4 separate regions of the Homo sapiens genome follow, and regions 1, 3 and 4 are each linked to region 2. Evidence: fine-mapped expression QTL. A gene starts in region 2. Each other region holds a variant in brackets. All regions are shown on one strand. Distances are from middle to middle.

Evidence for each region. PIP is the estimated chance that this variant, and not a neighbour inherited with it, causes the effect. A credible set is the group of variants that fine-mapping cannot tell apart.
Region 1: its variant is the best candidate, but not a certain one, in a credible set for the expression of ANKRD17-DT in whole blood (TOPMed, PIP 0.59).
Region 3: its variant is the best candidate, but not a certain one, in a credible set for the expression of ANKRD17-DT in non-classical monocytes (Schmiedel 2018, PIP 0.77).
Region 4: its variant is the best candidate, but not a certain one, in a credible set for the expression of ANKRD17-DT in whole blood (TOPMed, PIP 0.54).

Annotation. Positions count from the first base shown.
Region 1 is chr4:73,530,284-73,538,100 of GRCh38, reverse strand. LOC107986287 (a long non-coding RNA gene) reads right to left here and starts at 7,235. Exons shown (of 2, transcript XR_001741722.2): 1 at 5,028-7,235; 2 at 1-4,209. RefSeq lists enhancers at 1-10, 1,772-1,821. The variant ACAAT/T (reference allele first, on the strand shown) is at 4,722.
Region 2 is chr4:73,255,413-73,263,229 of GRCh38, reverse strand. It overlaps ANKRD17-DT (ANKRD17 divergent transcript), which reads right to left and starts at 4,064. Exons shown (of 5, transcript NR_187399.1): 1 at 3,822-4,064. It overlaps ANKRD17 (ankyrin repeat domain 17), which reads left to right and starts at 4,432. Exons shown (of 34, transcript NM_032217.5): 1 at 4,432-4,954. The coding sequence starts at 4,562. RefSeq lists enhancers at 3,911-4,180, 3,783-4,379, 6,780-7,280 and a silencer at 4,341-4,740.
Region 3 is chr4:73,775,100-73,782,916 of GRCh38, reverse strand. No RefSeq gene overlaps it. Among named protein-coding and RNA genes, the nearest start is that of CXCL8, 38 kb to the right of the region's middle. The variant G/TTG (reference allele first, on the strand shown) is at 3,266.
Region 4 is chr4:73,080,154-73,087,970 of GRCh38, reverse strand. It overlaps ANKRD17 (ankyrin repeat domain 17), which reads left to right. Exons shown (of 34, transcript NM_032217.5): 30 at 2,525-2,722. Among named protein-coding and RNA genes, the nearest start is that of COX18, 14 kb to the right of the region's middle. The variant C/T (reference allele first, on the strand shown) is at 3,387.

The sequences.
Region 1 (7,817 bases), 270 kb before region 2:
TCTGGGCATTGTCTGGTATCAGAGGAATTGGCCTGGAAAGTAGTGTGAAGGCACCCAAAGTTAGGTTGCTGTCTATCTCATCAGAGAGAGCTAGGTTAATTCTCAGCTGACTTTTTTCCTTGGTCTCTGACATTTTTAAGTTTGGATGTAAACTCTTAGCAACTCTCAGCATCCGGAATGAACTAAAACCATCAAGCACAAATGTGAACACTATCTTACAGGCATCCCTGTCATGGAAGTTACTACCTCCTAACTTCTCATGTAAATCATAATGATTTTTTTACATGATAATTGCTTTTTACATACCACTCTTTGCAAAATCTGCTTCTGAAAAATAGAGATAATCAGTGTTAAACTATCATTGCAATAATTTATCTTAAGATTGCAAAAACATATTCTCATATAGTATAATGTAACTGTTTTCCTAAACCCAAAGCTTTATTTAGTTACTGAGTTTGCAAATATTGGAAGTCAAGTTTTGCTAAAAGGGAAACTGCCATGTATTTTGTGGAGAAAAAGTGGGACAGCAAGACTGGCCTTCAATTTTCTGTGTTATAAACTCATTTGTGGCCTTAAATGAAATACTTTACAAACACAAGGCAAATTATTTATCAAGCCAGAAAGAGAACCTTAGAGCTATTTTATCAAGGTAAGTTTGATTGGTCAGTGTGCATGTGTATGTATTGGTTATTTCAATAAAATGGGCTTTTTACATAAATGGCACAGATACAGAGATATAGACGTAGGTATAGAAATATAGATACATATTAAGAAGCCATGATTTAATAAAAGCATATACTTTTTATTTAGTAAAATATTTAGTATTTAGTAATAGTAATAGTAATAGATACATATTAAGAAGCCATGATTTAATAAAAGCATATACTTTTTATTTAGTAAAATATTAGTATTTAGTAAAATACTCCATGAATATAAATTGAAGTGAATTAAATGGATTCTCGAGAGAAAGACAAATTCAGAGTTCTTGAACCATGAATATAAGATTCCAGTGGGAAGGTACCAATAACCTTGTAGGCTTAGTTGTTTAGCAAGAGCGCTGGTTATCAGCTTAATTAGTCAGACCTAGTCCACCTTATCCTAACGAGCAGTGGCTGTTATAGGGAAAATTGTTATTGTTTTTGCAAACAGTTGGCCTGAATTTCACACTTAGCCCTGTCCTTACTGACTGTGTGACATCAGGCAAGTCACTTGAACCTCTTGAAACTCAATACTCTACCATCTATAAAATGTACTTAGTGACTCAGGCTGTTGTAATCAAATAGGACACTGGTTGTAAAGCTGCTTTGTAAACTCTAAATGTCCATTCTCAATCCCAGCACTTTGGGAGGCCGAGGCGGGCGGATCACGAGGTCAGGAGATGGAGACCATCCTGGCTAACGCGGTGAAACCCCATCTCTACTAAAAATACAAAAAAATTATCCGGGAGTGGTGGCAGGCACCTGTAGACTCAGCTACTCTGGAGGCTGAGGCAGGAGAATGGCATGAACCCAGGAGGCAGAGCTTGCAGTGAGCCGAGATTGCGCCACTGTACTCCAGCCTGGGTGACAGAGCGAGACTCCATCTCAAAAAAAAAAAAAAAAAGTCATTCTCCTGTAAGGTGTTATTATCATAATGACTCTTGTGGAGGCCTAACAGTGATGCCATCAGACAGTGCTTACCTGCAGGAGGCTAAATCACTCTCACTTATCCTTCTTTATGGGAAAGAAAGATGCTAGGCATACCTGCTTGAGCCCACTCAGGACAAGAGATGTTTTTGCCCTTCATTCTTCCATTTCTCCCCTCCACTCTAATAGTCTGTGCTGTCTTGCTATCTGCTACTATGCCAAGCAAACAGCTACATTCACTGTAAAGAAGAGATTGCAGAAGCTTCATGAAACACAGAATCCATAAGTCAGTGACTCATCCATAGAGTTGCTATAGTATGGTGATGTGGCCTGTGGTTTAGACGGAAATTTTATTTCTTGTCTAGTGTTTGCAGTTAGCAAAAACATGCACAATCATTTACGAAAGCATGGAACTACTAATAGCACTAGAATATTGCCTATTTTTATAATCATTTGTGAGAAAGGGGGTTTTTGCTTTTTTTTTATTTTTAAGAAAATTGTCCCACAGCTATAGCATTCCAAAGGGTTTTCTAATTTGTAGCACTTTCTCAATCCATTTTTATATACTATATCCACTCTTAAAATCACTGGAACTGCCAACTTTGGATATCTTTTTGAATATTCATAAGGAAACCTGTATCATATGAAACACATTAAAAGGTAAACAATAAAAGTCTGAGGTCATGAAGTTTTCCACAAAAGCCAATTATGACTATTAAATTTTAACTGACCTTAAAGCATTTGGAAACCTGGAAAGCTAGAAGAGAGGTTTTATTGCCTACATTTTAAGATAAGAAAATCAAATCAATACATGATTTTTTTTGTTTGTTTGTTTTTGAGACAGGGTCTCACAATGTTGCCTAGGCTGGAATGTAGTGGTGCGATCACCCCTCACTGCAATCTTTACCTCCTGGGCTTAAGAGGTTCTCCCGTCTCAGCCTCCCAAGTAGCTGGGACTACAGGCATGGGCTACCACACCCAGTTAATTTTTTAATTTCTTGTAGAGACAGGATGTCACTACGTTGCTCAGGTTGCTTTTGAACTCCTGGCCTCAAACAGTCCTTCTGCCTCAACCTCCCAAAGTGCTGGGATTACAGGCATAAGCCACTGTATCTGGCCAATTACATGATCTTTCTAAAGTCACACAGTAATGAGTGGCAGATTTAGAACTTGAGCCCGAAACATCCTGATTAACAACGGGTAGTTTCTGGCTCAGAGACTCTATTTACTTTTACTAAAAATAATTTCAAGTGTTTGGTGAGAATACACTTTTCCTAATAATCTTTAAGACTAAATTTTATATTAGTAAGTATGACCATTTTTTCAAAAAAAGTGCTGGCTGCCTGTCCCAAATAAACTTTTAAGTGAACCATCCATACATAATCTAAACATTCTTCTATGTCACAAGAAAGAGAAATTCGAACTCTAGAATATTTTCAAAGGAACAGAATTATAGAAGGGATCTTTGAAGTTATCTTCCAACCACCTTAATTTACAGTTGTAACACAAAAGCCTGGGTAAATCAAATGACTTGACCTCCATTCCACAGCTATGCACTCAAAACTAGGACTGGAACTCACATTTCCCAACTCACAGTCCAATGTGCTTTCCACTAGGAAGTTGTGCCTGTCAACATTTTACTACCAAATGCAAGTTTAGACATTTATAATAAGTGAGTTCAGATGGCAGCATTTACCTTTATTAACCAGTATCAAATATAATTTTGGAAATATAACTAAGATTATTCTACAAAGAACTTTGAGGAAAACTGAGATTCTGTTGTTCTGTTTAGCTCTAAATAACACTCCCTAAAGGGACTTTGGAAATATTTCCATTTCCAGACAATTTCCACAGCAATAATGTATTAGTGTATATTGAAATCAGTTTGCCTAGTTAATATACACTTCTGAATGCACACCAGAGATGTTAATACCCCAACTCTCTAATCTTTAAATGTTTTACCAAGGGTCTGGCAGTAGATATTAAGTTAATTAAAACAGAAGAGCTGACAAAGTATATGAATCTAAAGCTCTTGCTTATTTCTAAGTCCCTTAAAACAAAACCTGCATACACTTGACTTCATCTTTTTTTTTTAAATTCCTATGTTAGTTGTGAACATTTAAATACCAAGACATTTCTAGCTTCTCTCAAAATGCAGGAGACCCAACTACCTGAAGTCTGAGTTCCCATATGGCAATGTTTCTGGTGCTGAACAGTCACTGCCACCTCTGGACTCTACAAAGCATCTCCTCCTGCCCACAGTTCCCACTCCATCCCTGGCTGGCCCTTGTGGTCATTCGAGTTTGCAACCCTTCCCAAGGAATTCATAAATACATATTCTATCACTAAGAGTTTACAGAAAAACTGTATTATGCTTGTAGGAATTCTGGCTTGTAAGTGAATTGTTTGCATACAAATTGGTCTTCTGTAGAACTGCTGAGTGGCAGGGATGAAAGGTCAGGTGTGTCAGCATTTTCTGAGTTAATATGCCTTCCCCTTGGAATGGCACTGGCTGTTCACAGGATTGAGTGACCTTGCTGGATAGGATAGCCTGTTTAGAGCAGGGGTAGTTTATAAGCTGGCTCTATAAAACATAAAAAGGAGAAGTTATTTTTGAAGATTTCATTCTGAGATTATTTTTTATTGTTCTTAACAGAAAAACAGAGAAAAAGTTGGTAACTTATATTGCTTTATCCCTGGCAAACTGAGAGAACAAAGAGATCATTTATAGTGACTCACTCTAACAAAGAAAGCTTCTCTGCTTGACCATACTCAAGTGTCACAAGATTTTCAAACATCTCTTAAAGAACATAAGAGGAGACAGACTGTATTATTGTTCCCGTGTTTAGCCCAACAAAGTACAAATGGAGAGTTTTATTGTTTTTCTATTGTTGTTCTTATTTTAAGATCACAGTTTGGGAAGTATTTCATCTCTGAACCACATCACTATTTGTTAATTTACTATACACGTTGTATATTATTACTACTACACTTCCGTATGTACTAATAAACATATATACACAAATAATTGTGTATGGGTGTGAATAAGCTAGTCTCTACATTTAGAAACTCACACTTGGAGAGTGAAACAATTAA[ACAAT/T]ACCAAGAGTGAAACAAACAATACCAATTATAATACATTATAAATAGAAGTTGTAAGAAAAGTACACATATAATGGTTTAGAAGAAAGAAGAGGGACTGGCTCCAGACTGGATGGAGGTCACCATGAAGATCTTGAACAATTTGAATCTTAAAGGACAAATAGAAGTTAGCTTGAAACAGCTGAAGAAAAAGAAGAGCATTTAGAACTATTCATCTTTATATATAAAGAGTCTTAGAGGTATAAAAACATGACATTTGGGAAATGACATACAAGGTATTTAGAGGCTATTGAGAAAAATTACCTTTAAAATGGTGAGGTTTGAACCAAATCAATGTCCAGATAGACTTAAGCACTTCTGAAAGGTAGAACTGATAATTTTAATAAACAACAATTAGTTTAGAAACAAAGTAGAGTGAAGAAAAATAATCTAGAATAATATAGGAGACTGGGTTGATGGTAGCACAATTTATTAAAATTGATATTCAGGAAAAAAGAACAGGTTTGAGGAGCGTGGCTAAAAAGCAAATCCAAATAGTTTGCTGTGTGAATATAGAGCTCAAGGATATTTAAGACTTCCGTGTAGCATCTACACATCTCTAAGCAGTCATGGATATAAACTAAGGGTTCAGGAAAGAAGAATTGGATGAAGATCTAAATCTAAGAGTGATACGTTGAAGCTACATTATGGCATCAGGTTAAGGCTGATAAGGCTGAGTGTGTGCAGCAATTAAGTAACTAGATGCACATGTATCCCTGAACTTAAAATGAAAGTTAAATTTAAAAACAAAAGAAGTTGCTTAGATAAGCAATGAAATATAAGGTTGACCAGCCTTCAAAATTTATCCATCCTCACTTTCCTAGCTAAATCTATTATCATAAAGACAAAAAGTATAAGATGCTTGGGTTTCCCTTGCTTCTGTTGACAATTGAGCAACATCCCTGAAATTTCTCTGGAAATAGGGAGTCTGGGCCTGCCCTGTAAGGAGAACTGAGCTTCCAGGAAGCCCAGTGTTGTCCTAAGTTGGAGAAAGTGATGTTAGGTAAATGTATGTCCTCAGAGGTCCACTTGTATAGAAACACAGTCTGGGCCAGGGAAGAAGCACACTGGGCAACAATCTCTTCCACCCCCAGCCCCACTTTTTCAGTTTCACGTGATGTTGGAGCAAAATTGTTCCTAGCTTCCAAGAGAAAAAAATACCTTTTCTCCTCCAGCCTTTACAATGCAGAAAAATTCAGTAAGTGCCTGAATCTGAACATCCAAAATCTTTTGTTCTCTGAGAAAGAGACTAAAGGATTTGAATGGATGGAATAAGTTGAAGTAGGAGATGACAAGGGCAGTTGAGGATTATGCCTTTTCATCTACATCTACGGCACTATGTGCCCTATTAGAACAGGCAAGTAACATAAGTGGAGAGAAAGGAGCCAGGTTTCCATTAACAGACTTTGTAAAATGAGAGATAAATGATTTTTCAAACAGGTTTAATCAAAAGGGGTGATTAACAACAGCAACAAAGTCTACAAATCTAGATATAACTTACACTGCTTTTTCTACTTCATAAGTAAATTTAATTACAGCATCTGTAAGAAACTTAAACAAATATATAAGAAAAAACAAACAAACAACCCCATCAAAAAGTGGGCAAAAGATATGAACAAGCACTTTTCAAAATAATTTCACATAAATTATGATATCTCAAAGATAATTCTCTAATATATTTTTGTTGCATTCTAGCTGTGATTAGAAAAAAACAGTTTATTAAAGAAGTCTTGCAGTAACAGAAAAAGTTAATCTCATTATTAATAAAGAAGGAAACAAAGATAAAAATTGTGTTTCTCTTCGAAATTAAAAAGTCTTCTACTGAGTTGTTTAAAAGAGGCCAAAATGCAGAAGTATAGCATGGTGTGTTTTATAAAATCTTTCTTTCCCAAAGATCACTTGTTCCGGAATCTCAAGCATTTAGAACATAAGTGAGCACAAGAAAGTAAGCAATCAAAAGTTCAGAGAGCCACCAGAACAAATTTCAATAATGTCTTAGAGTTGTATTTTGCTTTCATCCAAGTTACTAACCGTGTTATTTGGAACATATCTCATACTCATACTCATACTCCTAATCTTAAGTGTATGTTCCAGTTTTGTAATATATATTAGTGAACTCCCTCATCCCCTCAAATATTCATATCTTTAACTTAGGATTACTGCCAACTCTCTTACCAAGAAATGTTTCTAAATAAATAAAAACATAATTATGGAAAAAGAAGTACAGGCATGTTTTGTTAGGGTTGCAAAATTTTGGAAATAAATAAAATGGTTCAACAGAAGGGAAGGGTGACAGTTAAATAAATAATGTTCATTATTCTTGAGAAGATATATACTTCTAGTACAAAGTAGGTATGTCTAAATCTCTAATCAAAATTGTATATTCAGTGTGATCATATCATGTATAAAATAAAATCTGTGACTAGAAAAAAATAAGACAAGAAAATATACCAAAATTGGTATCTCTTTGTGGTAAGGATATAAGTCATATTTTAAAATTTCAGGGCCTGGTACGGTGGCTCAAGCCTGTAATCCCAGCACTTTGGGAGGTCGAGGCAGGTGGATTACTTGAGGTCAGGAGTTCCAGACCAGTCTGGCCAACTTGGTGAAACCCTGTCTGTGCTAAAAATACAAAAAAAAAAAAAAAAAAACAAAAATACCTGGGCATTGTGGTGCATGCCTGTAATCCCAACTACTCAGGAGGCTGAGGCAGGAGAATCACTTGAACCAGGGAGGCAGAGGTTGCAGTGAGCCAAGATCATGTCACTGCACTCCAGCCTGGACGATAGAGCCAGACTCTGTCTCAAAAAGAAATAAATAAATAAACGAAAGTTTAGAACAACTCCATATTTTTATTAAAAACATTATATTGATCACATATTGTTTTTACTATGAGTAACTGTACCTTACAGTGAGGTTTTCAAAAACAAGTTAGAAAATGCATGCAAAGGTGATATTCAAACCATAAAACTGGCATGATAATAATATTTTTATTTAATGAATATTATTAAATAAAATTTAATTATATTTTATAATTTATTATTATTTTGTTGT
Region 2 (7,817 bases):
TCATGTGATGTTTCCATAGGCCAGAGCTGGAATAGGAGTGCATCACTTCTCACATTCCACTGGTTAGAACCTAATCAGCACACCTAACCCATATACCTAATTGCAAGAGAGGCATGGAAATATAGCTGTGTGGCCAGAAGAATTTAGCATTTGCAAGAATCTACTATTCTGATCACTAAACATGTATTTTACCTGTCTTTCCACACACAGAACATACCCTGTCCCAAAGGAGACAATCTAAAGTTTTAACCAGTTACTGGAACAGGCTCAAAGTCTAGGATTTTCAGAAAATGTGCAGTTCTCTTCATTAGGTACAGATGTGACCTAAGAACTAAAAAGACAAATTATCTTTATTGTCACCCCCATCCCTGCAAACCCAATATATAGTGGTAACTCAGGGACAGATAACTATAATACATTCTCTCATTCAGAAAAAAAATGTGATACTGAGCAATACTATTCATGTATAATAATGATGAAATACTGCATAAACATTTTGCGGCCCATCTCCTTGAAACTGAAGAAAGTTCTGATGAAACTCCAATTCTAGTCTTCAGGAGAAACTCCCTGTCCAGTCTTTAGTACAGCTCCTTATACGAGCTTCTGAAATGTTCTTTTTTTGTCCATCATTCTCCATGGCCACATCCTGTGTGGGTACTGGGGAGCTGTTAAGGTTTTATGCTCTATTTTTCTACTTATGCAAGCTTGGGGTTGGACAGTTACCCTCTGTTTTAACACCCGAACAATGATATTTGAGCCAGATTTAGTATGATTAATAAAATTCCTCTAAAAATGTAGTCTTCTGATTGATTTGCTTCTGGTAACTACACCCAAAGTTCTTTCTTACATAATTATCAAGCCTAATTTACTGCTTTGCTGCCTTGCTCCTATGCCAGTTCCTTTAGACCTTTATCGTAGCTATCTTGAAGCCATCTAAAATAATGACTTTGAATGGAAAGACCAAACCCTTTTCCTGATCTTTGTTGCAGGACTTAATCTCAAGGGTAACTATACTCAAGACCTCTTCTAGTTTTTTTTTTTTTTTTATTAGAAGTCTTATAAAAGTCAACTTTTCCAACCCTTCCTGAGAAATATTCCTGTACACTCTCACTTCTGTGAAGTATTTCCTGAGTTTCTCTCTTTAGTAAAACCTTACTAAAAGTAAAATGTAAAATTCAACACAGTATTACTTTTGCTCTTTTCAATCATTTCCTCTGGAGCTAATCTAAACAGATAGGTGATCTGATTTTGAATTATTTCAGGTGACAGTTTTACTAATTACTTTGCCACTGCAAACATGGGCCTCCTTTTTCTAGCCTCCAAATCACATTCTCTACCACCTGCTGCATCATAAATAAGCTGATGTAACATATTTTAGGTTATTGTTTTAGCAGTACTCCACTTCTTGTACCAATTTCTGGACTAGCTATGGTCATTCTAGCTCCTATACATATAAATTCTCAAATCTCAATTTTTTCTCTTACAGTAAGTGCAAAAAGGGGTGTTTCTAATTGGGGTGGCTGTCTTCCAAGTACTGTTTCAGCCACTCATTCTTCTCTTTTCTGGCTTTGGCATCTCCAATACATAGTTTTGAAGGTCACCATGCTCAAAGGCATCAAGTTGACGAAGAAAGAGTAAGGGAGAATAGGAGGACTTCATTAACCCTAAAAATGAGCACATCATTTCCATTCATATTTAATTGGCTAGAAGTTAATCACGGCCAGGCTCGGTGGCTCACGCCCGTAATCCCAGCACTTTGAAAGCCGAGGTGGGGGAATCACCTGAGGTCGGGAGTTCGAGACCAGCCTGACCAACATGGAGAAACCGTGTCTCTACTAAAAATACAAAATTAGCCGGGTGTGATGGCACATGCCTGTAATCCCAGCTACTTGGGAGGCTGAGGCAGGAGAATCGCTTGAACACGGGAGGCGGAGGTTGCGGTGAGCTGAGATTGTGCCATTGCATTCCAGCCTGAGCAACAAGAGCTAAACTCTGTCTCAAAAAAAGAAGTTCATCACATGACTATAACCAACTACAAGGAAAGCTGTGAAATTTAGTTTAGCTGTGTGCCCGGGAAGAAGAAATAAGTTTCATGGGCTAGTCAGTCCCTGCCAGAGGTTCTAACGGGGGGAAAAAAAGATAAAAATAAAAGAAAGTGACTTTACATGCCTTGTCCATTTTAATAGTTTTGAACCTTATCCTACTAGTGAAACAGGATCATCATTTCACTATTATATTAAAGAACAAAAAACTCATTTTCTTCCAAACAATGAGATTACTTTAAAGAGAGCATTTTTGGTAGCACAGCACGATAGACACAGAGACTAGACTGCAGAGGGCTGACAAGTCAATTTCAGAAAACAAAAAAGACACTGATTGTAGACACTTTTTTTTTGAGATGGAGTCTCGCTCTGTCGCCCAAGCTAGAGTGCAGTAGCAGGATCTCAGCTCACTGCAAACTCCGCCTCGCAGGTTCAAGCGATTCTCCTGCTTCAGCCTCCTGAGTATAGAATACTTTTTAAAGAAAGAAAGTTTGCTTGTGAAGGAAATAATTGAAAGCTACAGAAGAATTAGCTAAGGAACCAGAATTTGTAGAAGGTTGACAACAGAAAAGATAATAAATGCATGAGAAAGAGGGGTATTGGAACTAGAATATGTATGAAGAGTTTATCTCATATATGAACAGGGAGTCTCTCATTCGTTGATACTGGAGAAAAGGCAATCTCAGGAAATTTCTAGCACTTGGAAAATTGTGAAGTCTAAGTTAAAAGTCATATAATAAAATGGGCTGGGATTTAAAGATTGCGAAAAGTATTCAAGTGGAAAGGGAGAAAAAGATGCTGAAGAATATACAAAGTAGGAGGGAGGGATGCAGCTGAAATTATAAAATCTAAATCAGTAGTGGTGAGATACACAATGCAGTGCTCTGTTCTACACTGGAACTCAGCAACGACTGTAGGAGAGGAATAGGCAGATGGTTACCACTCCGTATATATATTTACTATAGCACTTATTACACTGTAAAGCCCCTGGAAACAAGAGACTTTGATTCCACAAATTATGCGCACAGTAGGCACATGATGAATTTTTGTTTGAATGAATTGATTTAGTCATTGCCAATTCTGCCTTGGTACTCTGTAGAGTACTGGCAACTGCCCACATTTCATATGGTATGCCAATGCTAAAAAGAAAAAAAATGCTAAAAAAAAAAAAAATCCAGGCATATTCAGCTAAACTAAGCAGTCTTAAAATGGCAACTATGTCAGCTGAGACATACTTTTAATCTTGTGCCAGTACATCTGTCTTTGATGTTTGCTTCATTTTCCGTATGCCACTATACTCCTACTAGACCAGAAAGGGATAATTCTGAGTTCAATGGGCTCCACTATCATTTCAAAAGTCCTGAAACTTCTTCAGACACCTAAAAATGAACCCACAACTCCCATAACAGCATTCCTTCCGAGAGAAGTATACAGACAACAATCACTATTTATGCTTGCTTCCAAGCTGAATCGAAGAGGGCCGGAAGAGCTAAATCAGGGTCATTCAGTGAATCGTCTACAAAGTCTGGCACAGACCACGCATCCTTCCCGTGTCTTCCTCCCCTTGGAAACTTGAGGTGTAAGTAATGATCTTAGACATCTCCTAATCGACTGCCTTCATATTACACACGTGTAAACTCAGGTAGAGGATGTCTATGAGCCGAGCTTAAACTCAGGTAAAGAAGGCTCTTTTCCCAACACGACGCCATCTCTCATGATCCAAAGCTCTATCTCTCGATTTGGCGGTGGAAAAAAATGACCAGGAATAAAACTACGTACAGCAGTCCAGAACGAGGCCCCACCTCCCGGATCTGGCGGACCGGCCTCCCGTCAGCAAAGTGTCTGGACCGCGCTTCCGCACCTCACACTGCCCGGGGCCGGCTCCTCTCCAGCCTCCCCGTACTCCCCACACGCCGCAGCACTGCGCGCCCGCGGGGCCCCAGACCCGGCCCTTGAAATCTCACTTTCGCCTTTCGGCCACCCGCGCGCCACGGCTCAGGCGACGGCTGATGGCGTCACTGCACTTCCGCCTGCGGCTGCGTTCTAATCACAAGCCAGGAAGGAAGAAGGGAGGGCTGCAGGGCTGTGTGTGCGGGAAATAGCGAGGAAAGAGAAGAAATCCGGGAGCTCGCGGGCGCTCTGGTTGCAATCGCGCCCCCCTCATCTGTCCCCGCCGTTCCCCTTCGGAAGCTGCCCCAGGCACACTTCCCCGCTTCTTTCCAGTCTCCTCTCCTCTGGTTCTCCCGACACCCGGTCTCCCTGTTACGCCTCACCCTCCTTCCCTTGCTCCCTCCCTCTCCCTCCCTCCCTCCCTCCCATCGTCAGGCTCCCCGCCCTTAGTATCGCGAGACGAGGTGAGAGCTGGCGGAGCGGCGGCGGCGGCGGCGGCAGTAGAGGTGACCGAGGCGGTGGCGGCGGAGGCGGCACCGATTGCTGTGTCGGCCCCAGTGCGGCCGAAGTCGCGGTAGAGCGTAGCCCCACGCCCCTCCCCCGTCCGCGCCCTCCCTCTTTCCCTGGGGATGGAGAAGGCGACGGTTCCGGTGGCGGCGGCGACGGCTGCAGAAGGAGAAGGGAGCCCCCCGGCGGTGGCGGCTGTGGCGGGCCCCCCCGCGGCGGCGGAGGTCGGCGGCGGCGTTGGCGGCAGCAGCAGAGCTCGCTCGGCCTCGTCTCCTCGTGGGATGGTGCGAGTCTGCGACCTGCTCCTGAAGAAGAAGCCGCCGCAGCAGCAGCACCACAAGGCCAAGCGTAACCGGACTTGCCGACCCCCCAGCAGCAGCGAAAGCAGCAGCGACAGCGACAACAGCGGCGGCGGTGGAGGCGGCGGTGGAGGCGGAGGTGGCGGCGGCGGCACCAGCAGTAACAACAGCGAGGAAGAAGAGGACGACGACGACGAGGAAGAGGAGGTTTCTGAGGCAAGGGCCTGGTTTCAAAGGAAGGAGGGAGGAAGGGACTGTAAGGGATAGGGGCCGAAGGTGGGAGGGGATTTGGAGTGGGACAGATTCCAGTGGGTTGATCTCTTAGGGGCCAGGCTTTCGACTGCCCCCTTTCTTCCCTCGGCCTAAATCGTGAGGTGTGGGAATGTGGGGGAGGGTAGCTGACACGTGGGGGTGGGAGGACCACGGAGTTCACAGAGTTGGTGAACAGCCTGTTATCATGGGATGGCTCACTTGGTTAAGGATGGAGGGAATTGGTTAGATTCCCTGTTTGCACGCCGGGGGGTGGGGGGGTGGTCTGCCTGGGGCCAGTAGGGCCACCTTAGTCTGAGGCGGGATCGGGATCAAAGCGGGAGGAGTAAAATAATGGGTAAATGAGTCTCTTGGGGACCAACTAGGAGGTTGATCAACTTCTCCCAGTTGTGAGGTGGAGGGGAGCAGTTTGAGGGGGGACGTAAGGTTGTAATGGACTCAGAGCTAAGTGTTTGTGTATGTGAGGGACACGTGAGAAGCTGTACTTTTCCATACTGTTCTGCAGGGTTTTTCGTAACTATCCTGGCTGCTGAAGTAACTTCATTTCCTCGATCTCCCAGGGATTTTCGATGAACTGATGCTGTATTTGTATAAATTTATCAGTAACTTTAAATAATTACAAATGACCATATACATTTGTAAGTGGATGAAAAATATATTTGATCCTTACACGTACATACATACATGCCTTCGAATGTTTCCTTAGTGAGTTAGAATTAAGCTAGGACCTGTTGTCCCGTAATATGGGACAGCCAAAGGGTAGGCTTTGGAGCCAGGCCTGGTTGTGGTGAGTTGGAATAGGAAGGCCTCTCGGTTTGTCCTAGTGATCTGGTTTCATAATAACTTTATAATTTTTCCTGGGTCCACAGACAGGCGGCGTTGCAGGACCTTATTCCTCACAGAAGCCCTTACAACCCAAAGGCTCAGTAAAACATACCATACTGACAACCAACTGAGAGTTAGCTTTACTAGTTATTAGCTGTTTTACCACTCTCTTGTCTCCTTCCTGAAATAGAATCTAGAAAAATCTTTATTTGGAGAGGGAAATCTTTATCAGCAGAGGGAAAACAGCTTTAAAGGCTGATTTTAAACTTAGTTCTAAGAGGAGACCAAGTGATTCATCTAAAAGTACCACTTACTATTTATTCTCTTCCACAAACATGGAACTTATTTTGATGCAAGTCTGGTTTTCCGAAAATTGGAATTATTGAATCCTGGTCTCTGTTGAAATAGAGAAGTACCTTTTAAAGGATTTGACACATGTCTATTTGTAGAAGACCAGATTCTCTTTTATCTCAGACTGGATGAAGTTGTATAGGTAGAGATATTAAGTGCTGAAGTATGTATGACAAAAATATGCCAGTCCTTGTTTTTATTCCCTTTTAGCCTGTTGGATTCTGAGAATAGGTTTGTATTGATAGACTTATATTGGCCTACTTGGATGTTTAGGATAGTGTGTTGCTCTGGCGGCATTTGAAACAAGGAAGAGAAAGATGTAATGGGGTCCTTATCCCTAATAAAATTTGTTATGGTACTTAGAATCATTCAATTGTATGATTCTTCTCAAAGGTGAGAAACATTTTACAGGTAATTCAGCCCTTTATTTTAAAAAGGAGGAAAACAAGGTTTAGAGGAAAGTGGTTGTGGTGGGTAGTAGCAAAAGTACAAATCAAAGTTTTCTAATGTCTCAGACCTGTACACTTTTTAATAATAATTTATTTCCTTTTATCACCCTCCTGATATCATTCAGAAAAATAGTTACTGAATAGCAAGGTAACACAATCATGCAGCTATAGGCAAAATACCATTACTTAAAATTTTAAATTCTCGTGAAACTATTAAGCTCTGGTTTAGAGCAAGGTTATGATAGTTGAATGCAGTACTTACTGGGATATTCTGCTGCAAACTTAACATACCTAGGTAGTTTTGTCCATTGGAATGCGGCCTAATAAGCAGAACTTTTAGTAATTCCTTAAATCATGAAGAATGGCTGTAAGTTTGTAGGTATGTTTATTTTGTGGGTCAGGTTTGTTTTCCTTTTGTAATATAGGAATGGTTATGTTGACTTTCACCAACTATGGTAGTATTTCTATGTTTTTAACATACCTTATCCTGTCTTTTACATGGTGTTAAACAATGGGTTTGTCATTTATGAAGATGAGTCAGGAGAAATACGTGTAAGAAAGTGTGCCCATTGGCCGGGCGTGGTAGCTCACGCCTGTAATCCCAGCACTTTGGGAGACCGAGGCGGGCGGATCACCTGAGGTCAGGAGTTTGAGACCAGCCTGGCCAACATGGTGAAACCCCATCTCTACTAAAAATACAAAAAAATTAGCCGAGTGTGGTGGCAGATGCCTGTAATCTCAGCTACTTGGGAGGCTGAGGCAGGAGAATTGCTTGAACCCGGGAGGTGGAGGTTGCAGTGAGCTGAGATTGCACCATTGCAGTCCAGCCTGGGCAACAAGAACGAGACTCTGTCTCAAAAAAAAAAAAGTGTACCCATTTAAAAAATCTATACAGATGAGGGATGAGCAGACAAAAAGGAGTACAGATTGTCTCTGCCCCATCTTCATCTTTTGATCAAAGTAAAGACAAATAAAACTGTAAGCTAAATGGGTGAGTTGTGTAATGTTTTTCTCTTAATTACCATTTTACTGACATGTCAGCAGAAGCCTAACTTTCTGGAGCTAGGAAGTCTTGTGGCTAAAATCACAGTGTTGTCTTTTCTCTAATTCATTCTGTTATAGGCTACACAATAAAAAAAAGTAGATAAAATGATCTTTAAAATTATCCTTCCAGTAAAAATCAT
Region 3 (7,817 bases), 520 kb before region 2:
CTGGGTCCTGTGTGTGTATAGACACAACATCCGATTTTATGGGATTGAGATTGTACGGTATGTATCATGGTTTTTCACGATATATACTAAATACTTACAATGAATATCATGAATATTTACCAATAAAAAGTCCCAAAGCTATAGGAGTATTTTGATAATCAAGAATACACCACACCATTGCCAGGCTCAGTGGCTCACGCCTGTAATCCCAGCACTTTGGGAGGCTGGGCAGATCACCTGAGCTCAGGAGTTTGAGAGCAGCCTGGTAAACATGGAGAAACCCCGTCTCTCCTAAATATACAAAATTAGCCTGGTGTGGTTTTGGGCACCTGTAATCCCAGCTACTTGGGAGACTGAGGCAGGAGAATTGCTTGAATCCAGGAGGCAGAGGCCGCAGTGAGCCGAGATTGTGCCACTGCGCTTCAGCCTGGGCGACAGAGCGAGACTCCAACTCAAACAAACAAAAATAAAATACATCACACCAACTTAATCTGTCGGAAAAAAGAAAACAAAAACATAATTCTGCCTTTCTTGGGGTAAAAATTTCATAGAAGACAAAAATGACAACATGCTTATAGATAAAAGCGTTGAAAGAGTTCAAATTAAAATACTGTATTCTCTTAATGCTCAATTTAAAATGAAACATAATGCAACAGAATATACTAAGTATGTTTCTAAGAGAATTCATTAGCAGATCTATACCATTAAAATATTAATAAGAATGTATGTTTCCACTGAATTAATTAATGTATTCCTATGGTACAACCACAAGAGATGCACATACCTCAATGGCTATTGTCAAAATGTAAATATGAAAACATCTGCATACATCTTTCCCTTTGTATTTGCTTCTGCCCTTCTGATGCCAACCTAATGAACAAATCCTTACACACACTACTCAGAGGCAGTTTAATAATTCTATGTCCAACACGTATCTTTTCTATCAATTATAACAAAAAAAATTTACAAATTGGTTAATTCACTAGCTCTACTTTTTTATCATACATTGTTACCCCAAGACATTTATAAAGCTTAGATGTTGCAAAATAATTAAATTTGTTCACAATACACTTAGGTGCTTTACTAACAATGCTCATATAGATCTACGGTTATTATCTGATATGGTTTGGCTCTGTGCCCCACCAAAATCTTACCTTGAATTGTAATCCCCATAATCTCCACATGTCAAGTGCAGGACCAGGTGGGGGTAATTGAATCATGGGAGCTGTTTCCCCCATGCTGTTCTCCTGATAATGAATGAGTCTCACAAGATCTGATGGTTTTATAATTGTCTGGCATTCCCCCTCCTTAAACTTCTTGCTGCTGCCCTGTGAAGTAAGTGCCTTGCTTCCCCTTCACCTTCCACCATGATTGTAAATTTCCTGAAGCATTCCCAGCCATGCTGAACTGTGAGTCAATTAAACCTCTTTCCTTTATAAATTACACAGTCGTCGGTATGGTTTTATTAGCAGCATGAGAACCGACTAATACATCATCTAAAACCCTCTTCTGTATGTAGAGATACTAACAAACAGCCCTTCCCTTCACTTTTCCTCTTTTCCCTTTTCCACTATCCCAGTGACTAAATATAGGACTACATCTAGTTCCAAGAGTTGGATTAACAAAAGTCACTCCCAGAAGACAGGCCTTCCCAAAAACCAGTGAGAAGACATTTATGTAGGAACTGTTTTACTACCTCTACTTTTAACATACTTTGGGGATTAGGACTTATTTATCCTTTAATACATAACAGTACTAACTAAAAGGCACATATACAACAATGGTTAGAACATCCGACCTAATCAAACTTACAGGCACGGAACACTTCTGCATGCATACTTTCTCCTCCCCTGACTTGCTGCCACCCAATAAACAGTCAGCATACTCTCCAAACATCAAGCTTAACAATTGCATTCCCAAGCACAACCACTCCTAGGAATTAACCAAAAAACTACCTCAGGGTGTTACTTTAGCCCTCTAGTTTTAAACTATGTTGTGCAATTTTAAGCATGTGAAAAGACTAGATATTTCAAATAGGACTTAAGTTTTCCACCATAGACACAGTAGCATTAAATAAGTGGTGCACATAACACAGGTTATATTTGAAAGTGTCTTCTAAATAAGAACATTCTGGCCTAGAACCCTTCCCCTTCCTACCTCTATCAACACAGTTGACAGGTATAAGCATTTGTAATGCTTAGACAAGATTTAACAATTTCACTTCTTTAAGTGTTTTTAAGAATAGTCTTTCTTATGAATTTTAAAACAAAATGTTCTCAATTTATTAGTTTACTAACCTCTGCTTTTGTCATACACTGTCAAACTCTTTAACATTTAGAAAGACTAGATGTTGTAAATTAGGATACGTTTGCCCATTTATATATACTATATACACAGCAAAGTAAAAGAAAATGTAGATACAAGGAACAGTGGTCAATTGTGCCTCACCATAAACACACTGGTGTAAAGGCCTTTGCACTTTCTTCTCCTCCTTCCTCCCTGTACCAGCACAAATAATGTGTACTGCTCAGAGGAGTGGTTTGATCACTTTCCAAGGGACAATATTTTATATCAAAAGGCTATCTATAAAATGTGGAAATTTACTACCTCTACTTTTAACATATTTATGTACTTCTAAATATCTAGAAAGACTAGCTGTTTCAAATAAAGACTTAAGTTTGTTTACTATATACACAGTATTGTTGAATAAACTACACACATGTAACAACTGTTATATCTGAAAGTGTTTTCTAAATAGGAACGTTCTGGTCTAGAATCCTTTATTTCTTTCAACTCCTCTCTACGAACAACCTGGTAAATATGGGCACATGTGTCAAAGCTGATGCTATCATTTCACTTCCTGAAGTCTTTTTCAAAATACAATCTTTGTATACATCTTAACATAAAATGTACAAAATGTGTTAGTTTACTAACTCTCCTTTTGTCATACATTGACAATCTCTAATATCTAGTGACTAGATATTATAAAATTAGGATTCATTTGTCCAATATATACAGTATATACAGTATAGTTAAGTTAAATAAAATGCACTGTCAAGGGCATTTGGGTATAAAGGACAATGGATAAGCTGACATTTTCTAGTACACACTAGCAAAATGCCTTTTGCAATTTCTTCCCTCCCATCTCCCTCAACCCAATGAACAAGTATAGAAAGTACACTGTTCACTGTTCAGAGGTGGATTAACAATTCTACTTCCAAGCACAGTATTTCTCGTCAGTTTTTTGGTTTTTTTTTTTTTTTTT[G/TTG]ATGGAATTTCACTCTTGTTGCCTAGGCTGGAGTATAATGACGCGATCTTGGCTCACTGCAACCTCCACTTCCCGGGTTCAAGAGATTCTCTTGCCTAAGCCTCCCGAGTAGCTGGGATTACAGGCATGCGCTACCACACTGGGCTAATTTTGTATTTTTAGTAGAGACAGGGTTTCTCCATGTTGATCAGGCTGGTCTCAAACTCTCAACCGCCTGACCTCAGGTGATCCGCCCACCTTGGCCTCCCAAAGTGCTGGGATTACAGGCATGAGCCACCATGCCCGGCCTCCCATCAGTTTTTAATAGCTATTTATAAGAAGTGTTATTCTACTACTTCTACGTTTAAATGCATCAAGCACTTCTAAATATGTAGAAAGACTGGAAATTTCATATAACTTTTCTGCTATGTTAAAATTGCACATATATAATAATGGTTATAATCTGAGGTATCTTCTAAATATGACCATTTTGGCCTTGAACCATTCTCTCCTCCCTTCCTTCTCTCTGCCTTCAATCCAGTGGACCAGTACAGTATGTGTAATGTTAGAGATGTCTGAACAAATCTGTATTCAAAAGTCATTTACAGAAGACAAGCTTTCCTGTGAATTTCAACACAGTATATAAAATGTGCTAATTTGGCTGGGCACAGTGGTTCACACCTGTAATCCCACCATTTTGGGAGGGTGAGGTGGGTGGGTCACCTGAGGTCAGGAGTTAGAGACCAGCCTGACCAACATGGTGAAACCCTGTCTCTACTAAATACAAAAAAAAAAAAAAAAAAAAATCAAATTAGTTGGGCGTGGTGGCAGGTGCCTGTAATCCCAATTACTTGGGAGGCTGAGACGTGAGAATCCCTTGAACCCAGAAGGCAAAGGTTGTAGTGAGCCGAGATTGAGCCATTGCACTCCAGCCTGGGCGACAGAGAGAGATTCTGTCTCAAAAAAAAAAAAAAAAAAAGTGCTAATTTCACTAAGTTTAGTACTTTTTAAATGTATTCCATAGGTTTTGATAAATTGCATTTCCATTTTCATGTGTTTCAAAAAAACTTTAGTTTCCTTCTCAATTTCTTAACTCACTTTGTCAGTTTCTTTTAAAATTATCTATACAGGTTCATGACCCAGTAATATCAATTCTAGGTATTTAATCCAAGATAAATAAAAGCATATATGTCCAAAAAAGTATTGGACATAAATATTCATAGCAACTTCAGTAACAAAATAAAAAACTAAGGACAATGAAAGTAGGAAAGATTGTGGTATAACCCCATAGTATGAAATACTACTCAGAGACTAAAAGGAATGAGCTCCTGCAAAAACATGAATAAATTTCACAAATATTATGCTGAGTGAAAGTCAGACAATGAGAGTGCCTAGTGCATTATTCTATTTCTATAAAATTCTATAGTGATAAAATTGGATCAGTGGTTATCTGGGACTGGTAGGGGGCAGAGTGACCGACTAAAAATGGGCAAGAGGGAACTTTGGGAGCATAATGTAAATATTCTATATCTTGGTTGTGGCAGTGGCTACATGAGTTGATATCTTTATCAAAACTCATCAAACATGACACTTCAAAAGGATATGTTTTTACTTTGTAGAAGGTATACTTGGATCTTTTTTATATCCTTATTCAGATAGAATACCAGTATAGCAGCTCCTAGGATTTGTCACAAATGGAAAATGACATGTCATCTTCATTTCAAAATTACAGTTCTTAAATCTGGGGAGGAAAGCCAACACCCTTTTGGACCATGAATACTGCCCAGAGTCCATCAGCTACTCCGTTTGGAATTTCAGCAGTTTCACAGACACAGACTCCTGCAGGCAATGCTGCAGCATCCTGAGTTGATTCATTCACTCAGTGAGCCATAAAATATGAGACAATTTCTCACACTTTGCTTCATCATTTGCTGTTTTTCAGGCCAAGATGACAACGAGCCCAGCTGAAGCTGACATCCCAGCAAATTGCATGACAAATTGCAAAGACGACTAACCCACAACCTACTCTTCTGGAAAATACAATTTAAATAAAATAATTTTAAGTGATTTTCACCTGTTTTCAAAGTACATGATACAGTTTATAAGTATTAAATTTAAAAAAAGACTAAAATGTACTTAGTGACTTTTCATCATTATTGAAATAAAATTTTATCAATTTAAAATATAGAGAAATGAAAATATGTTAATTATTTTATGGCTTTTTCCCCTTAATCTTAAAATACGATTCAGAGGTAAAGTTGTATTTGTTTTGGCTCAACATGCATTATTTACTTCAAATTAAGTATATCAAAAAGCAAAAGTGCATGCTTTTAATATTTCTCTAGTAACTTAAAGCAGATTATCAAAATTACTGTATTTATAATCTTTTGTTTATTTTACAATGATTTATGAGATTAATTAACTTAAAATCAACTGTATCCACCTTCTGGAGGCTTTATGTAAAACAAATTAAATAGACATTTTAGGCATTGAACCATAATTTTCAGTAAGCATTTCTTTGGTTTACTAATGTTTCAAATAATACAGATTATACTTTTTTTAACCTCTGAAAAAGATCATACATTTTTGTGTTTAATAAAACTGCCATGGTAAGTGCTAAGGAACATTTATTCAGTGACAGTAAAGGTATTGAAGATAAGTATGTAAGATAGGATCCATCATCTTTATATATGGAGACAAAGCTTTTGCTTCTCCACCCAAAAGTGCACACTTTGACACAATTATACCTTCAAAAAATATCCATTTTATAAAATATAAATGTATTAGGTAAGCCAAAAATAATAAATTAACATGCAGTGTACCATCAGTAAGCAATAGGTAGCTGGCTTTCTTTGGCTTATAAACATTGAGATAGCCACACAAAGTAAGTTTAAGAACAATTTTGAGACCAAGGAAAAGCAGTGCATTAAGTATTAAGCATTTATCCAGGGACAGCAACATGCATGTTTTCAGAATGTTTCTACTCAGCTCCAAAGACACCTGCACCCTGTGGTAAGCAGGACTGGGATCATTGCAAGGCCCACATTGCGGACACCATGAAGGATCACAGACTCAGTGACCTTTTTGGCACTTCTCCAAAAGCTGTGTCAACATCAAAATGTTTTGGCTTTTCCCTTCATCTCTGCCAGAGAAAATAATAACTTCCTTTTAGAACATCTAGTTCAGAATGTAGGTTAATGGAATGCTTTATCTAAACCAGCCAAATTTTCTTTTTTCAGAATGAAACCGCAGAAGTGAATATGGTTTGGAGTTACTAATCTTCATAACAAGGAAGAAGGAAGTTTGGCAAATAAAAGTTCAAAGGGATTTTTGATGAAGAAATGATTTAAATCCCCTTATTTTCCCCTGCCAAAAAAAAAATTCCACACATATTACCCTTTTAGACCTCAATTATAAAGCATTTTATTCAAAAAAGTAAAATATATGTGCATATAACCATTACCTATCTACCCACCTCTGAGATTAGCTCTATTAATATTTGATTATAATTGATTCCAATCTTTTTTAATTAAAAAATACATAGACTCTAAAGTCCCATTCGCCAGTTTTCTCTCTTCACTATTCAAATCCTGTGATGATAGTATCATTCTCTTTAGTGTTCTGAACTTTTACCATAGATTCATGTTTCTCTATATAGTATTTAGTGCTTAACATCTACGTGAATGACATTGTACTGGATGTAGCATTTTGTATTCTTTTTTACTCAGAAGTATGTTTAAAGGTTTACCCTTGTTTAACCAGTTAGATTGAGTAGTTTCATTTTAACTCTATCATTGCACTGTTTATGAATTTTACTCCTGAGGTTCAATAGTTTTTGCTATTACCAACACTGCTTCACAAGCATCCTTATAGCAATTTCTTATGTACATGGTTGAAGATTTCTCTAGTGCAGACGCAGAAGGGATAATGCTGGGGTAAGTTCTGCATATCTTCAGCTTTCACTAGATATTGCCAATTTCCAAAGTTATGTGCATTTATATTTACCCCAGCCATGTCTGAATTTCCATTTTCCCATATCCTCACCAAAATTCAGTGTTACCAGATTTACCAGTTGTTGACCATCTGATGGATATGCAATGCTATCTCATAGTGGTTTAAGTTTGATTTTTTTTGATAACTAATGAAACTAAGTATCTATTAAGTTTCTGTGAATTGCCTATTCATATTCTTGTCCATTTTTCTATTGGAGTCTGGGATTCTTTAACTGATGAGTAGCGGTCATATTTTAGATACCTGTATATTCCAAATACTTATATATTCTAAATACCTACTGCAGATGAATGAAATTTTCACTGTGTTAAGATGAATGTTAGACTGTTTAGATGACACTTTGAATTCCACTGAATCTCAATAGAAATGTTTTACAATTTATTTTACATCTATCCGGAGTGTCAAGCCTTACTGCTCAATATTATATACATGTTCTCTTATTTCAATATACTTTCATGTATCTTTTTACTTATTTATCTCATAGAAAGGCAAGGTAGAATAATGTTTGACAGGAAAAATCAGACTTTGTACCAGACTGACACTTTCTAGGTTTGAATCCCAG
Region 4 (7,817 bases), 180 kb after region 2:
CCCTCCTTTTTTTTCCTCTCTTTTGCTGCTTCCTTTTCTTCCCCCTCTCTTGTCTTGTCTTACCTGTCTCTCCCCTTCTTCATCCTTCTTTCCTCCTTTTCCCCCTTTCTATCCTATCTCTATTTTCTTTTCTTCCCCATCTTTTGTCAAATCATGAGAAGATAACTTTCAAACATGATACTTTACCCCTAAATACTTTGATATGGATCTTCACAATGTTTGCCTTCACAGCTATGCCACTATTACTGCACCCAATAAAATGAGGATGAATTTGATAATAACACCCAACATAAAATGCCATTTTCCCAAATATATTCTTTCTGACTATGTGTGTCTCTTTTCCTTGCCATTTGATCCAAGACTCAATCAAGATTCACACATTACTTTTGGTTGTTATGTGTCTTTGGTCTCCCTCTGTCTAAAGTATTCTACTGCCTTCCTCTGTAATTCTTGACATTGACTCTGTGGGCAAGTTTAATTCAGTGATTATGTCAATCCATGATTAGATTCAGATCAAATATTTCAGGAAGGAGCATCATATAGGTGATGTTTTGAACCTCACACTGCATTTTATCAATGACAGATTGGCTGGATGTGGTGGCTCACACTTGTAATCCCAACACTTTGGGAGACTGAGACAAGAGGCTCATTTGAGGCCAGAAATTTAAGACCTGCCTGGGCAACATTGTGAGACCTTGCCTCTACAAAAATAAATAAAAAAGCTGGGTGTGGTGGCATGTACCTGTAATCCCACCTACTTGGGAGGCTGAGGCAGGAGGATCACTTGAGCCCAGTAGATGGAGGCTGGGGTGAGCTATGAGCAACAGAGCAATCTCCTGTCTCCTTAAAAAAAAAGAAAAAATGATAAATTGTTCCAGTATTGGCTGTGGAAAGCATGGCCGTGTGGTTAGTATGTAATTATCAGATCTCTTCATTGTAGAATTGTATCTACAGCCCTTTTTTGCCCTGTAGTTTTATACAACTCTTTGGTCCTTAAACCTATTTAAAATCCTACAGATATATATATATATATATATATATATATATATATTTTTTTTTTTTTTTTTTTTTTTGAGATGGAGTCTCACTCGGACGCCCAGGCTGGAGTGCAGTGGCACAATCTAGGCTCACTGCAACCTCCGCCTCCCAGGTTCAAGCATAAAATCCAATATTGACATGTGTTCTATAAAAGCTAATAAAAGGTAAAACAAAAATATAGCTAGGTGTAATGGTGAACACCTGTAGCCCCAGATACTCAGGAGGCTGAGGCAAGAGGGTTGCTTGAGCCCAAGAGTTTGTGGCTACCGTGAGCTATGATCACATGCCACTGCATTCCACCCTGAGCAACAGAGAAAGCTGTCTCCTAAATTAAAAAAAAAAATCGTTGACAATTATTTTCTTTCTTTTTTTTCTGTATTTTTAACCCGTTAGACTAAAATCAGATAGGTTACTTGTGTAATAGTTTAGTGTGTAAACATTTGTAATACTTTTTTAATGAACATATTTCAAAAACAAATGTGTACCTGTAAGAGAGAAAAAGAAGAGGAAGAGTAAATGTTTTATCTTTATCCCTAAAAATAAACATTTAAAAAAAAATGTTATCTAAAAATCCCTAAAGGTAAACGTTTATTCTTCCTCTTCTTTTTCTCTCTCACAAATACACATACATTCGTTTTTGAAATAGGAACATCTGGAAGTTTCACTTTCTGTTTTATATATGGTTTTTGGTTTTGGATTTTTTAAATAAGTTTGCATTAATTTTATGATCAATAAAGGCAACAAAAGTCCACTTTGACAGAAAGCCCATGTAAAGGAAAACTAATGATCCTTTTTAACTAAAACATTAATGCCCACTAGTGCTGAAAGTACTAAAATCAAGAATTAAATTTGTTCCCAGTAAATTATAATTTGAATTTAAGAGTATAATGTGATAATTGTTTCTTTTATAATTATCTACATAGTTTAGTTTTTTGTGTGTGTGAGACAGGGTCTCACTCTGTCACTCAGGCTGGCATGCAGTGGTGCCATCACAGCTCATTGCAGCCTTAACCTCCTGGGCTCAAGCAATCCTCCCACCTCAGCCTCCCAAGTAACTGGAACTACAAACACGCACCACCAAACTTGGCTAATTTTTTTTTTTTTTTAATTTTTTGTAGAGGCAGTCTATCCTGGCCTTGAACTCTGGGTTCAAGCAGTCCTCTCACTTTGGCCCCCCAAAGTGAGATTCATGCCTGGGATTATAGGCATGAACCACCACACCCAGCCAGGAACTTTTTTTTTTTTTTTTTGAGGTGGGGTCTCGATGTGTTGCCCAGACCAGTCTTGAATGCCTGGCCATAAGCAGTCCTCCCACCTTGGCCTCCCAAAGTGCTGGGATTACAGATGTGGGCCACCACTCCCAGCCGGGATTTTTTTAATTATCTAAAATAGTTTTGAATATATTTAGGGCCTTTTAGAATTTTAAGGTATCTCTATTTCTTGCAGGAGTAACTATTATAAATTATGATGACCTTCTACATTATAGGTATTGTCAATATGGACTCGCCATATGGTTCTGTAACACCTTCTTCAACACATTTGGGAAACTTTGCTTCAAACATTTCAGGAGGTCAGATGTACGGACCTGGGGCACCCCTTGGAGGAGCACCCGCAGCTGCTAACTTTAACAGACAACATTTTTCCCCGCTTAGTTTGTTGACTCCGTGTTCATCAGCATCAAATGGTGAGTTTTATACACCGTAATTCCATAAGAATCTGCATATGTTTTCTTAAAAACAGCAGGTTTCAAACCTCATCATAATTTTAATACCATAAAAAGGTAATTTGTACTCTTAGAAGTCTGGAATTTCAAAAAAATTTCTAGGTATTTAAATGATTAGAATCAACCTAGGTTCTATCAAACCTAAAATATTGAAGTTTTTCTAAGAGGGATTTTTATTATTTTTTATTTTTATTAGAGACAGGCTCTCACTGTGTTGCCCTCGCTGGTTTCGTCAAACTCCTGGGCTGAAGCAGTCTTCCTGCCTTCCAAAGAGCTGGGATTACAGGTGTGAGCCACCACACCTGTCCTGAGGGATCATTTTTTGGGGGAAAAAAATTAATCCTTGTACCTGTTATTAATTTATGTTTACTTTTAGTTTTGAGAATACAGGTACCAAGGAGAAAGATTTCTACCCTTGAGTGAAAATTACATCCTTTTAGTCCACCTTTAAATCTCATCTAGGCTGGGCACAGTGGCATACACCTGTAATCCTAGCACTTTGGTAGGCCAAGGCGGGTGGATCACCTGAGGTCAGGAGTTCAAGACCAGCTCGGCCAACATGGCAAAACCCTGCCTCTACTAAAAATACAAAAATTAGCCAGGCGTTGTGGTGTGCACCTGTGAT[C/T]CCAGCTACTTGGGAGGCTGAGGCAGGAGAATTGCTTGAACCCAGGAGGCGGAGGTTGCAGTGAGCCGAGATCACACCACTGCACTCCAGCCTGGGCAACAGAGCAAGACTTCATCTCAAAAAAAAAAAAAAATCTCATCTGCATTAACAACACAACAGATTTCACATTATCACATGTGTTTTTTAACTACAGGCAGACTTTTGAAGCAGTGATTAGATTTTCTTTCTTTCTTTTTTTTATTTGAAATGGAGTCTCACTCTGTCACCCAGGCTGTAGTGCAATGGCTCAAGCGATTCTCCCACCTCAGCCTCCTGAATAAATGGGACTACAGGCATGTGCTACCACACCTGGCTAATTTTTGTATTTTTAGTAGAGACAGTTTCACTACATTGGCCAGGCTGGTCTCAAACTCCTGATCTCATGATCTGCCCACCTCGGCTTCCCAAACTGCTGGGATTACAGGTGTGAGCCACCAGGCCTAGATTTTCAAACTAATGAAGATCAGTCAGCAATAGAGAATTCAACTCAACTAAGAGAATTCTGTAGTAAGGTTGGATATGTTTGTTTTCCAGGTAAAGATGTGAAATTGCTTATCCCTTAAGGAAGTTATAGTAAGACTTCGGTTTTTTTTTTTTTGTTTTGTTTTTTTTTTTAACTATCAAATTTCTTCTAACTAGCAATACTGGAATAAATAACAGTTAACCTAATTAACTTAATGAAAGAGTAAAGAGTTATAATTATTTTAGAGATACATGTCAGAGTACATTGCCAGTTAAAGCATGAGGTAAATTGTAGCCTGCAATGAATTTATATATTCATAGTTTTTCTTGTGTTTGTCAAATAGTGGCAGTCATATAGAATATTAATTATCCTTGCACAGCTCCCAAAGTGCTGGAATTACAGGCGTGTACCACCACACCACCCAGGTTAGGTTTTTTAATACATGCTTTTGAATATAGTGCTATATTGTAAATACAGAGTATCATTGAGGGCATTACAATTGCTTTTATTGTTGCCACATTCCAGTAACTATTTTGTTACAAAAAATTTCAGACCCATAGAAAAGTTAAAGAATAGTTCAAGGAATATCCATATTTCCTTCGCCTAAATTTCCCAATTATTTTGTTATATTTATTTTCTCTCTCTACTGTTTTGCTGAACCATTTGTAAATAAGGTGCAGATATGACACTTCAGACCTAAAAACATGCATCACTTAAGAATAAGGATATTTTCTTATGCAACCATGATACCATTGTCAAATACCTAATAGGTTAACATGAATTCAGTAAGAATTAATCAGTCCATATTCAGATATCTTCAATTATTCCAAAACGTTTTTTATAGATGTTTCTTTCTTGAACCAGGAACTACCACTCAAGGCTCACATATTGCATTTGATTATGTCTCTCAGATTTTGTAATTAATAATTTTAAACTTTCAAGAATACCACAAGGATCCCTTGTATATTTTTCCCAGATTCACCAATTAAACTGCATTACTTCCTTTCCTCATCATATATTCCTCTGTGTGTGTGTAAAATTATTTTATTCCTGAACTATTTTACAGTTAGTTGTAGACGTCAAGCCCTTTTGCCCCTAAATAACTTAGTTTCCTAAATATAAGAATGTTCCCTTCAACAACTATGATGCAGTGTTTAAATTCAGCAAACTTTACATTTTATATTATTATCTAATATATGGTGCATATTTACATTTCATCAGTTATCTCAATAACTTTATTATTTTCTCTCATCCAAGATTCTAATTAGGACTGCAAGTTACACTTAATTCCCATATCTCTTTAGTCTCAAATAATCTAGAACTGTTCTCTGAGTCTTTCTTTAACTTTCAAAGAAAGATTCATTTTATGAAGACTACAAGCCAGTTGTTTGCTAGAATGCCTTTTATTTTTATTTCCTACTATTTCTTCCTGATTAAATTCAGGGTATGTTTAATAAACACTGAACTAAACTGTGAGAAATGTGCAGTGTAATTTTACTGTAGGAGCACTTTTTGTTCTTCTCCTTTCTTTTCATGTAATTTTACTGTAGAAGCACTTTTTGTTCTCTCCTCTCTCCTCTCCTTTTCTTCTCACGAGTTCTGTCTCTGTCACCCAGGCTGGAATGCAGCAGTGTGTGACCATAGCTTACTGCAGCCTCAATCAAACTCCTAGGCTCAAGCAGTCCTCTTGCCTCAGCCTCCCAAGTAGCTGGGACTACAGGCACTTGCCATAGCACCCAGCTAATGTTTTTATTTTATTTTTATGTATTTATTTTTTGTAAGATGAGGTCTTACCATGTTGCCCAGACTGGACTTGAACTCCTGATCTCCAGAGATCCTCCCACTTTAGCCTCCCAAAATGCAGAGATGCTGAGATTACAGATGTGAGCCACCACGCTTGGCCCCCCTTTTTTTTTTTTTTTTTTTAAATAAAAAGATAATGTATCTCTCTGTTGCCCAGGCTGGAATGTAGTGGCACAATCTTGGCTCACTGTAACCTCCACCTTCTGGGCTCAAGCAATCTTCCTGCCTCAGCTTCTCAAGTAGCTGGGACTACAGGTGTGCACCACCATGCTTGGCTAATTTGTTAAATTTTTTTTTGTAGAGATGAGGTTTTACCACGTTGCCCAGCCTGATCTCAAACTCCTGGCCTCAAGTGATCTGCCCACCTGGGCCTCCCAAAGTGTTGGGATTGCAGGTGTGAGCCACCACACCCAGTGGCCCCACTTTTTGAATTTGTAAATCACATTGCTCTTTCAATTTTAACTCAGGACTCTGTTATCATTTCTAAACTGTGGTGAAGTTACCGTGGTATCAGTGAAACTTAAATCCTTAGGCCACTTCATTTTATGGGGTACTTCCAAGTGCTGTACATGATTTTTTTATTTGTAATTTTTCATTCTTCTAAAAAAGGTTCCCAAAATTTTGTAAGTTTAAGGCCCCACAAAACCTAGATCTGCCCCATCCTCTGAAACCTGTTTCTCTAATATATAAGCTGATGTTTTTAAATAACATGGCTCTGAATTAAATTTTGCTTTTTTTCTAATTGAAGTAATTATAATAATTAGAGATGTGAAAATTATTTTAGTTAGGTTCTTTTCATGAAAAGGAATATAGGCCCATCCAGGGACTCTCATGGAAAATGATGTTTATATAAGGCTATGCAGAACCATTTTCCAAACCGTCCAGGACTTAGGGATAGCTATTCTCTCTCTCTCTCTCTCTTAGAGGATTTGTGGTCTCTCACTCATGGTCTGTTTCTTGTCAGTTTCTTGCATTCTGCTCTCTTTACACCTAAACTTCTTCATAATCTTACCTTGTATATGCACATCAGTGGTTCAACTTCATAATTAATTAAACCAGTTAACCCTTTAATTCCCCATTCTTTGATGAGGAATGTGATTGGCTCAGCTCATATGTTCAAGTCAGACCATTTCAGTCAGATTACTGACTAGCCTAAAATAAAACTTGGATGGGTGCCTATCCTTAATCCAATAGTTGTGCAGAGAGGGAGCAGAAAACAGGGTCATCTGATAAAAACTATGACTAGAGGGGTGGCAGAATCTGTGCAGAGAGTAAACTTCTTAAATGGCGCAGCTCAGCGGGCAAGCCTAGTAATTCTGTTTATTAAAATAGAATGTGTAGGAGGCTGAGGTGGGAGGATGGCTTGAGGCCAGGAGTTTGAGGCTGCAGTGCACTGTGATTGTGCCTGTGAATAGTCACTGTACTTCAGTGTGGGCATCATAGTGAGACCGTCTCATAAAAAACAAAACAATGTGGAAGGTTGTTGTTATTTTGCTCTACTTTGGTTCTAGAAGGATACAGGAAATAAAAGGGAAACCAGAGTGAACACAGAGGTTAAGGTAGGCTCCCAGGGATGAACCTAGGGGAAAGCAGGATTCATTTGTTTATCCTTCTTTCCTTCCTGCCTGCCTGCCCTGACTATGTCTTGATGTTAGTTGTTCTGGGTTGATTTTTCCTAGAGGTTTAGGTGTGGCCTTTCAATATGTAGGTTTTTAAAAAACAAGCTTTTGTTATTTATCTTTGTGTTTACATTTACATGTCTGTGTATTCCTTGTAGTTTTTGTCTGTTTTCTACTGCATGTATAATTGCAGAATTTGGTTTTATTTGGTCTTTAGCTAAAATATTCTTTTACTTCTAACACTTTCCTGAGTTTTGTCATATTGTTTCCGTTTTACTAATTCTGAATTATGCTGTTCCTTCATATCATTTTCTTTTCGTTCATTTTTGAATTTTAGGTTATAGCTTTTTTTCTGGAGTGCTTTTATTGTCAACAGGAATGCTATAGGTCTTTCTCTTTTATCTTATATAATAGGCTTATTTGGAATTCAACTGCAGTTCTGTTGAATCTGCAGGTAACAGTTTTGATTTTTAAGCTTCAGACTCCTTTATTATTTATACCATTTTA